3 linked regions of the Homo sapiens genome follow. The protein of the gene in region 3 purifies or fractionates together with the protein of the main gene of each other region. This does not show direct contact. Each region holds a gene or a part of one and is shown on either strand. Other genes may lie near its edges.

Region 1 (3,653 bases), about 71 Mb from region 3:
ATATATACATATATATATATACACACATAAGTAAAAGCAAGCAAGCTGAAAATAGTATTAAAAAAAACAACATGGCTGGACCAGGGTCACTCCAGAATGGGCAGTGCTGCAGCTCTGCCCCAGTGCTGCTACGAGTACTCTCTTCCACACCTGACCTCTGTCCTTTGCCCTCCACCCTCCCCCTGTGGCATCCACAAACACTCATCTGTCTGACCAGCTCAGATGGAGTGGCAAAGGGAGGGAGAAGACTGGGGCAGCCAGAGAACAGGGTCTCTAGTGGCCCTTCCTCTCTCTGGCATCAATGCTCCACAGACAGCCCTGGTACTCTGGGCCCTGCCTCCTCCACCTCCCAACACTCACCCTCTCTCGAAGTGACCCCTGCTCTAGGTGGGCCAGCAGCGGGCAGCAGCCACAGCAGCAGCACATCCCAGCATGGGCACTGCCCAGCAGCAAGCGACCCTGGCACTGCCTAGTGCTATTGTCCCGGAGGTTGCCTGTGCCCGCCCCAGGGCTCAGGCTTCTGAGGATGGAAGGACATAGGGCCTGCTTACCAGGGGTGCCTGCTCCAGAGGTGGAGTGAGTGGGCTTGTTTGGTTCTTTGTCCTACTCTTTTCCAGGTATTCTTAAGATAATCACATTGGTCTCCCATTTACCCACGCCCAAGTAGGACAGCCCTTTACCTCCAAGACCCAACCTATGCACCAAGAAAAAGGGCCCATTACTCCACAATCCATAACACCCACCCCAGTGCTCAGAGGCCCTTCCTGCTTGGTTCAGTCCTTTGCTCTCCAGCATCTAGATACTTTTTTTTTTCTTTTTTTTTTTGAGACAGGGTCTCACTCTGTTGCCTGGACTGGAGTACATTGGCATGATCATGGCTCACCGCAGCCTTGACCTCCCGGGCTCAAGTGATCCTTCCACCTCAGCCCTCCAAATAGCTGGGACCACAGGCATGCATCATGATGCTCACCTAATTTTTAAATTTTTTTTGTAGAGACAGCGTCTTGCTATGTTGCCCAGGCTGGTCTCGAACTCCTAGGATCAAGTGATCCTCCTGCCCCAGCCTCCCCAAAGTGCTAGAATTATAGGTGTGAGCCACCACGCTCAGACCTAGAGTCATTCTGTCTCTTTCTCACAAATCCCATGGGAAGTTCTTCTTGCTACACACCTTCATCCACACTACTGCTACATCAAGGATAAATAAAGAATATGAAAGCCCTTAGCACAATACCTGGTATACAATAGGCACCCAATACATGTCTCAAAATGAAAGAAAAGGAAGGAAGCAAAGAAGCAAGGAAGGATGTATGGACACCAAGACATGGGGTCTCAGTAGCACCCTGGCCCCTATTCTGGAAACCCTCTTCCTTCCTTATCAGAGCTTTAGAACCTTCTGTCTCTTCTTGTTTCTCTTTTCTCCCTCCTCCTGAAGGGCTCTAAGCCATTCTCTCCTATTTCCTTTGAGTTTAGACCCTGAGGGTTTCCTCTGGAAGTCAGAAGACCAACCCCAAACTTCCTTCCACTGTCATCCCAGATCTCAGTCACTTTTGGGAAAGAAAGACAGGGCCAGGCCGAGCGCAGTGGCTCATGCCTATAATCCTAACACTTTGAGAGGCCGAGGCGGGCAGATCACTTGAGATCAGGAGTTTGAGACCAGCCTGGCCAACATGGCAAAACCCCATCTCTACTAAAAATACAAAAATTGGCCGGGTATGGTGGTGGGCACCTGTAATCCCAACTACTCAGGAGGCTGAGGCAGGAGAATTGCTTGAACGCAGGAGGTGGAGGTTGCAGTGAGCCAAGATCATGCCACTGCACTCCAGCCTGGGTGACAGAGCGAGACTCTGTCTCAAAAAAAAAAAAAGAAAAGAAAAAAGAAAGAAAGATGGGAGCAATGGCAGAGGGCATTGTGGATCTCTACTGAAAAGCTCAAAGGCAAACACAGTCTCCCCTCTTCTCTCCACTTTGTCTCCCAGAATAAGGGATGAGGAAACAGTGACGTACATGGAGGGGAAGGCAATGCCAAGGCTAGGACTTTGGCTTCCTGGGCTCCCAGCAGGCAGCAAGGCCAGGCAGATCCACCCAGGCGAGGTAGAGCTTCTCCAAGCAAGCCCTAAGCTCTCATCTGACTTTTTTTTTTTTAATAATAGATTTTAAAAACTTAATGTTTTTGTAGAGATGAGGTCTCACTATGTTGCCCAGGCTTGTCTCAAATTCCTGAGCTCATGCGATCCAGCTGCCTTGGTCTTCCAAAATGCTAGGATTACAGGTGCGAGCCACTGTGCCCAGCTCTCTCAGCTGCCTTTGCTTCTCTCTCAGGTATGTCCAAATCAAGACTTCTGGGAGAGTCACAGAGTACTCAGAATCACCTCTCCTCCAGCTGTACCTGGCAGCAGCCCCTTCCCCAAGATGGTGACACCTCTGTCCACACCCTCTGTAATAGTGACCGGAGAGCCTGTGGAGCATTCCACCAGGATTCGAGTCACCTGTGGCTCAGCCCCTGTACAGCAGAGGCGCCGTTGGCTATGAAGGGCACTGAGTCCTGGAGGAGGAGCTATAGGGCTGGGAAATGAAGAGGTGAGGGATTGCTGGGGGTGGGACTGAGAAGAGGGCTTGGGGTGGTCTCAGCCGGGCCCTGCTCCTTTATGAGCTTCCAGGGACAAGATGAAGACAGGAGGCAGAGGGGAAGGCAGCCAAGTGGAAACACTAATGCCAAAGCCAGAAACAACACAGAAAGACATCACTGCACACACAAAGGCACTTAATAAATGCTTGCTTAGTGAATGAAGATGAGACACTGGCAATGGGAGTGGGTACGGGTGAAACGGAAGAGGATTGCTAAGGGCCACAAGGAATAAATCAGGTTAGGGACCCTGAGACCCAAGCATCCTGGAACCCAGCCTGCCCCCTACGCGGCCACACCTGTCAGGCCAGGAGAGAGAGACAAGCAGAAAGAGAGGGGGGGTAAGCGATGCAAACAGACAGGCATTTGTGCAAGTGAACAATAGCTGTGCCAGGACTCCCTGCCCTCCTGGCACAAGGCAGGCCGGCTGGGTTGGGAGGGGGGCAGCTGCTGCCTGCAACCCCACCCCCACCCTCTCCCAAAGAGACATAAACAAACCCGGAAGGGTCCAGCCAGCTCCTCTCAGCCTTTTCTCTTACCAGCTTCAGAAATCCTAACCAATCCGCTCACTCAGCTCCTAGATGATATTTCCAACCAGAAACTGAAGCTAAGGATGAAGCTACTTCCTCGTGGCCAGAGAGCACGAACCCCCTACTTTGCTGACCACTGTTCAAAACAGTAGCCCAGAGCATCTGGGTACAGAATAGGAGGGCAGGCAGGCAGACAGACACACTGACACACCAGCACACCAGTAACATGCACACAGGGGATGCACACATTCACATCTGTCCCCTCCTTGATTCCAAGGTCAAATTCCACAGCCAGAGTGGCTAAGATCAGACCCCACTGTAACTCCTCTGGTCGGCCTCAGTAGGTCCTTCTCTAGGCCCCATCTAACCTCCTGCAAGTCACTCAGTGACTTCCCTAAGCTTTAGACTCCCTTCCCCTATCCTCACTTCTCCCCTCCCCCTCAACTCTCTCCCTAACCTCCACGACCCCTAGAATTTTTGTCTATGTCCCCAGAAGCCTC
Region 2 (3,653 bases), on a different chromosome or scaffold from region 3:
GCAAACTTGCTACAATGGCAAAATTACTGGAAACACCTATTTCTAGTAAGTCCCAAAGCAAAACTACACAGTCAGGTATGTCAAAGTGAGTCGCCAAATGGTTTTTCTATCTTTTCTTCTTTAGCTATTTAATATTTTCAGTATGAAGAAGGCAGGGAAGGTAAGGAGTGAGAGTTAATTTGTGAAGTTTTGTATGTTTTACTTAAACTAGAAGTTTACGCAAAAAGAGTACACAGTTTCCAATTTAAGTAGGCAGACTGAGCATGCCCATCAGTTTCCTATTGCTGCTTCCATCCCTCGAAATGATAGAAAAGATTTTAAACAGCAAATAAAGAATGAGAAAAAGAAGAAATTATAAGTGGGTTTTAAAAAGTTGCAGTGGGCCAGGCATCATGGCTCACACCTGTAATCCCAGCACTTTGGGAGGCTGAGGTGGGAGGATCCCTTGATCCCAGGAATTTGAGGTTGCAGTAAGCTATGATTGTGCCACTGTACTCCAGCCTGGGTGACAGAGTGAGGCCCTGTCTCAAAAAAAAAAAAAAAAAGTTTGCAGTGGATAGACCAGAAGCTACAAGAAATCCCTGAGAGAAAGAAGACAGTATAGGATGGAAGATGGAAACCTCAGTTCAAAACCACCGGGAGATGACTATTGCAATTAGGAGCAATATCAAAACTGTTCCACATATGAGGGTGATATGTTCCAGGAGAAATAGAGGGCCTAGGGGATATGAATGGGGTAATTAGTTGGTGTTCTAAACCAACAGCAACCAGGTGGGGTTAATCCTCTCTTTATTTCTTCTTCTCCCCTCCTTTCCCCAACCTCAATATTGAGCTGGGCAACAACAACAGGAACAAAGAATCTGGGAGCAGGGCAGTGCTCCAGGTGGCTAGCCATATCAAGCAGGAACTGGGAGCCGACTTGCCTTGGGAGGCTGAGATGGGAGGATCACTTGAGTCCGGGAGGTCAAGGCTGCAGTGAGCTGTGATCGCACCACTGCACTCCAGCCTGGGAAACAGAGCAGACCCTGTCTCAAAAAAAAAAAAAAAAAAAAAAAAAAAAGTAAGAGTAACCAACAAAAACATAGAACGTATAACTTTAAAACTGGTAAAGGAAAAACTTGGAAAAAAACATTTTCAATCTAACAAAATCAGGAAAGAGGAAAAAAACCTAGAGAGCGTGGGTAAGTAGGACATAATAGTAGTTTGAAACATCAACAATCACACTAAATATAAGTAGGTTAAACTCATATAAGTTATTAAAAGACCACAACTTTCAAATAGGGTTTTTAAAAATGTGGAAATTTGCTATTTTTACAAGAAGAACATCTAAAATTAAAAATCAGGGGATGGAGAATGATATACCAAGCAAATGCAGTGTTGATATTAGATAAATTATAGAGGTAAATAAAAGATTAGATAAATTAGAGTTAGCATTAAAAGGGACAAAGCTGATAGTTCATAATGATAATGGAATAGTCTCCCAAGAAACTGTAATTGTTTTCTTTCTGTAGATCATACAGCTTTATATAAAGCAAGAGCTGATAGAAATACATGAAAAAGACTGGTAAATTCCCAATCACACTGAGAGATTTTTAACATATCAGTGGGGAAATGGGGTTCTTGAACCTCTGGAAAACTTGAAGCTGAGATTGTTCAGGGGTCCATGAGTCTGATGTTGGTAAACATTCCTCATGTACAAGCCAAAGATTATTTGTATAAATTTTGGAATGGTGATGTGAACCTTAGGTATGAAAAGGCAGTAACATATAACAAGAAAATAATTTTCTAGATCTGGGGCAACAGTGTGCAAATAATGTCCCCAGTAGAGAAGCAAATCCTTTTCATGGACTCTAGGGCTTGCTACTCTGAGATACAATGCCTCTAATTTCATGCTATGTGGCTGCTTTGTCTTTGATCAGATTTAGTGTCTTAGGTAATTAAATCAGAAAGTCTATTTAGCTATTCTAGAAGTGTATGTGTAGGTATTGGGTGGGTGGGGTTCTTTGAGCGAACTTGTCAGAAACTCCATTCTTAACATCAGAATCAGGGCAGGATTGAAAACATTGTGGCTGGATCTTGAAATTGCTATAACATCTATTGCAGAAAATGATAGGTCAGATGGATAGCAATAATAATTATATATCAGATCTTAGTAACAAAATTACCAAGCTTTATCTAGTGGATATATGTAAAAGAATATTTTTAAATGTCCAGCATTGATGTATTTTCTTTAAGAATTATTACAGTATATAAGCATTCTTTGGGAATACAGTATAAAAACATAAATTTTTTCTTATTTTTAATTTTTTTTATTTTTTTGTTCAAGGATGAATCTTCCCTTTAAATATTAATTTTCTCTTAATTTCGTGTTTCCTTGCACATAATAGCACTGCCCCTAACTTCAGAGATGCTGATTGCAGTTAAAAAATCAAAAAGAAATGATGTGAATCAGAAAATACCATGTTGTATTGAAAGCAAATCAAATAGTGTAAACACCATCACCAGAACTCTGTGCGAACAAGCTCCCAAGAGGAGGGCAGCTTGTAACTTACAAAGGCTGTTAGAGAACTCAGAGCATCAGAGCATAAAGCATGTGGGATCCAAAGAGACACATTTGGAATTCCAGTTTGGGGATGGTAGTTGCAAGCACCTAAACAGTTTGCCAAGGAATGTTTCTCCTGAGTTTGTTCCTTGTGAAGGTGAAGGAGGCTTTGGTTTGCACAAGAAGAAAGACCTACTCAGTGATAATGGTTCTGAATCACTTCCGCATTCAGCTGCATACCCCTTTCTTGGAACCTTAGGAAATAAACCCTCACCTAGATGTACCCCTGGTCCTTCTGAATCAGGATGCATGCATATAACCTTTCGCGATTCTAATGAAAGACTTGGTTTAAAAGTATATAAATGCAATCCACTAATGGAAAGTGAAAATGCTGCATCTGAGAAAAGTCAAGGTTTGGATGTTCAGGAACCTCCAGTAAAAGATGGAGGGGACCTTAGTGACTGCTTGGGCTGGCCTTCCAGCAGTGCAACCTTATCCTTTGACAGTCGTGAAGCATCATTTGTACATGGTAGGCCACAAGGAACTTTGGAAATACCAAGTGAATCTGTTAAATCCAAACAGTTTTCACCATCCGGTTATCTTTCAGATACAGAGGAAAGTAATATGATTTGTCAAACAATGAAATGTCAGCGTTATCAAACTCCATACCTGTCAGAAGAAACCACGTATTTGGAGCCAGGAAAGATCAGTGTGAATTGTGGACACCCATCTCGTCATAAGGCTGATAGATTAAAGTCAGATTTCAAAAAACTGAGCAGTACATTACCATCTTCAGTGTGTCAGCAGCCTTCAAGAAAATTAATTGTTCCGCTATCTAGCCAACAAGATAGTGGCTTTGATAGCCCATTTGTTAATCTAGACTAATTATGGTACAGTATTTAAGAAGAATCATTAATATATTAACAAAAATGGAAGGGAAGACCTCATACTGAAAAAAATTGTGAGCCCTGCCTCTTTTGAGATGTTTTAATAACATCTGTTATATAAGTAAAGCATTCTTCTAAAATTGCTTGAGATATTTATGTTGCCTTAATATTCCAAAGGCCTGATGGTGTATGTATAATCTGCTTTTGTGTGGTGCTTATTTTTG
Region 3 (3,653 bases):
ATGATAATGCGAGTTATTGTTGTGAAGTAACAGAGAATATATTTCTGAGCACTTCTGACCTTAAAACAAGTCACAAGTCAGTATGGTGTGGCGCTTAAGAGCATGGGCACAAGATCCCAGACTTGTAGTTGTATGTCCTTGGAGAAATGATTTAATTTCTTTGCATCACCATTTTTTTCATATATAAAATAAGGATATAATGACAGTACATCCTAAATCATGACGATGTTAACAGAGTTAAATGAGTTAATACTTGTAAAGTGCTTAGATCTACCTGGTGCTCAGTATTTACTCAATAAATGTCAGTTGTTGTTGTTGTTGTTATATATTTAATGCCTCTTTAGTGATAGTGTTCTGGCACTTTTACAGAAGGAAAATGAAAATGATACTAACATTTCAAATGGTGTCTGCCACCTTTGCTTTGTCATGTATTCTAGTGCTAAAGGTAGTTATTCTGATTAGGAATAGCTGAACTCCAGTAATGGTATCATTTAATGAATGCTTATTTTATTGGTGAGTGCTAAGCAAACTAACATAATCATGAAACTAGCATAAAGGGTGTCTGTTTTCTAATATCATGAATATTGATTAAATTGTTCTAGGTCACAGCTTCCCAGCTCTCAGCATCTAATAACAAATGTTCAATCCTGATGCTAGCAGACACTGAGAATGAGAAGAATAAGTGGGTGGGAGTGCTGAGTGAATTGCACAAGATTTTGAAGAAAAACAAATTCAGAGACCGCTCAGTCTATGTTCCCAAAGAGGCTTATGACAGCACTCTACCCCTCATTAAAACAACCCAGGCAGCCGCAATCATAGGTATGAATTTATAACATTTATCATATTATTATCATTGTTTACTAATCTACCTTGAGAACAGGGATTGGCTTTCATCTAGGAATCCCCAGTGTCCAACATACTGTGCATCATATCATAAATGCTCAGTACATGTTTACTGAATGAATGAGACCTATATCAGATCTTTGTTTTTCAGTAAACAGGAGTATAAATACACTTTCAAAGTGCCTTTTTTTTCCTGAAAAAACAACAGTGCTAAGCATTAGCCTACTAATCTATTTTCTGCTTGTGTGATTTAGAACAAGTTAGTTTCTTAGAGTTTAATATATAAAATACAGATGGTAATTACCTTGCTGAGGTTATTGGGAAGTTTAAATAAGATGGAATACATAACACAGAGTGCCCTGCATAAGAAAGAAATCCCCTTAACAAATGGCAGTTTCTGTGTCTGGAGGTTTAAATTTTTGCTGTATTCCTGTGTATGCATCTAACTCTTTTGTTACTTTCCATAAATACTGAAAAGTTCAATGAGTATGGTTCAAATGCCATTCACAATTTTTACCTCCCAAAACAATAAGTGTAGAACAACTTAGGTTTTTCATTTTGTTTCATCATTTATTAAACATTTACTTCTTTTTGTAAGTATTGATATGGATTATTCTTTAATAATTGTTCTATTTTAGAAGACATGAGAGATTTACCAGTATAATCTGAAAGGAAATAGTGTAAACTGTTATTGTAATTCATTTTATTTCCATTTTTTGCACCAAATGTTCTTATCATCTGGTTTATTAGCATTACATGGTTTTTTTCCTAATAAAAATCTTTCACATTCATGTCTTACATAGATCATGAAAGAATTGCTTTGGGAAACGAAGAAGGGTTATTTGTTGTACATGTCACCAAAGATGGTAAGAGAAAACTTTTTTTTTTTGGAGTAATTTTAAATCGTGTTAAAAAAATTTAAACTGTAGATTCTAAATTCTACAAAGAGCAGGATTTGCTCTTATTTATCCTGCGACTAAAATTTTCCAGACCTAATTTGACGTTTATAAATTAAAAGATTATTTTTAAATTTCTATAATCCCCCTGAGGTTTAAAACTTCAAATATGTATTGTCTTTCTTGTATCATTTTATTTAACAGTTCTGTACGAACTCAGATTGCATTTCTTTTTTTTTTTTTGGAGACAGAGTTTCACTCTTGCTGCCCAGGCTGGAGTGCAGTGGCACGAACTCGGCTCATTGCAGCCTCCGCCTCCTGGGTTCAAGAGATTCTCCTGCCTCAGCCTCCCAGTAGCTGGGATTACAGGCATGCACCACCACGCCCGGCTAATTTTGTATTTTTAGTAGAGATGAGGTTTCTCCATGTTGGCCAGGTTGGTCTCGAACTCCCAACCTCAGGTGATCCACCCGCCTTGGCCTCCCAAAGTGCTGAGATTATAAGCATGAGCCACTGCGCCCAGCCCAGATTGCATTTCTAAAGATGGAACATGAAAAAAAATATATACAACTTGATTTTCACATTGTTCTATTAGTACCAGAAGAGGCAACAGCTATTAAAATGTGTTTGTTTGGAGGTTTTTCTTCTAGGGAAAAACTAAATGCTGGGTGAAATAAAGAGAAACCAATATAACTTGGTATTCATAAATACAGTATTCTAAGTTTTATCTTTATGTCAACTTAGATCATGGGAAAACAATGCATTGTTAGCCATATAAAAACTTCTGAAAAATAAGTTCTCTGTTTTTAAAAATGGGAATCCTATGGTGACGTTCCCTAGAATTTAGTGCCAGTAGAAAAGTTTCCTTGAAGATTTGGCATACTTTTACACAAGAATCCTTTGGGGTTTGCCTTGGCTGCCAGAAATCTCAGGACTCAAATTTAATACGTACTATAGGTGAGTTAAATTATCTTATGATGGGTTGGATAATCTTTTTTTCCTGTGACTTCTGATGTCTTATTCTTCCGTATGTGCATCTGTAAGTTGACTTACATCCTTTTGAGTATAATTGGGATATGATTAATCAATAAAACTATATTTTGATTTATTATTCTTTCTGTGTTTAGAAATTATTAGAGTTGGTGACAATAAGAAGATTCATCAGATTGAACTCATTCCAAATGATCAGCTTGTTGCTGTGATCTCAGGACGAAATCGTCATGTACGACTTTTTCCTATGTCAGCATTGGATGGGCGAGAGACCGATTTTTACAAGCTGTCAGAAACTAAAGGGTGTCAAACCGTAACTTCTGGAAAGGTGCGCCATGGAGCTCTCACATGCCTGTGTGTGGCTATGAAAAGGCAGGTCCTCTGTTATGAACTATTTCAGAGCAAGACCCGTCACAGAAAATTTAAAGAAATTCAAGTCCCATATAATGTCCAGTGGATGGCAATCTTCAGTGAACAACTCTGTGTGGGATTCCAGTCAGGATTTCTAAGATACCCCTTGAATGGAGAAGGAAATCCATACAGTATGCTCCATTCAAATGACCATACACTATCATTTATTGCACATCAACCAATGGATGCTATCTGCGCAGTTGAGATCTCCAGTAAAGAATATCTGCTGTGTTTTAACAGCATTGGGATATACACTGACTGCCAGGGCCGAAGATCTAGACAACAGGAATTGATGTGGCCAGCAAATCCTTCCTCTTGTTGTAAGATTCTCTTTCTTACGGCTGTCTTATCTTTATATCTCTTCTTCCTTTTCCCTTCTACTTCGTCTCCCAAATGTTGTCATTGTTGATAACAGTTTTTTAAAAAAGTCATTCTTAATGCTTTTCCTCAGTATTGATTATGTTGTTGATGTAAAAACCATATGTAGTTAGGCCTGGGCAAACAGGGCCAGCA

What was found.
Region 1: the proteins of CDC42BPA (region 3) and ARHGEF2 purify together in Homo sapiens (affinity purification with mass spectrometry, with the first as the bait; one large-scale study listed by BioGRID). This does not show direct contact.
Region 2: the proteins of CDC42BPA (region 3) and CEP152 purify together in Homo sapiens (co-immunoprecipitation; one large-scale study listed by IntAct). This does not show direct contact.

Annotation. Positions count from the first base shown.
Region 1 is NC_000001.11:155,971,895-155,975,547, forward strand, and holds part of ARHGEF2 (rho guanine nucleotide exchange factor 2), read right to left. Parts: intron 1-3,653. UniProt on the Homo sapiens protein: Activates Rho-GTPases by promoting the exchange of GDP for GTP.
Region 2 is NC_000015.10:48,738,023-48,741,675, reverse strand, and holds part of CEP152 (centrosomal protein of 152 kDa), read left to right. Parts: coding exon 1-75; intron 76-2,387; coding exon 2,388-3,427; 3' UTR 3,428-3,653. UniProt on the Homo sapiens protein: Necessary for centrosome duplication; the function also seems to involve CEP63, CDK5RAP2 and WDR62 through a stepwise assembled complex at the centrosome that recruits CDK2 required for centriole duplication.
Region 3 is NC_000001.11:227,028,464-227,032,116, reverse strand, and holds part of CDC42BPA (serine/threonine-protein kinase MRCK alpha), read left to right. Parts: intron 1-602; coding exon 603-819; intron 820-1,646; coding exon 1,647-1,709; intron 1,710-2,866; coding exon 2,867-3,460; intron 3,461-3,653. UniProt on the Homo sapiens protein: Serine/threonine-protein kinase which is an important downstream effector of CDC42 and plays a role in the regulation of cytoskeleton reorganization and cell migration. Regulates actin cytoskeletal reorganization via phosphorylation of PPP1R12C and MYL9/MLC2.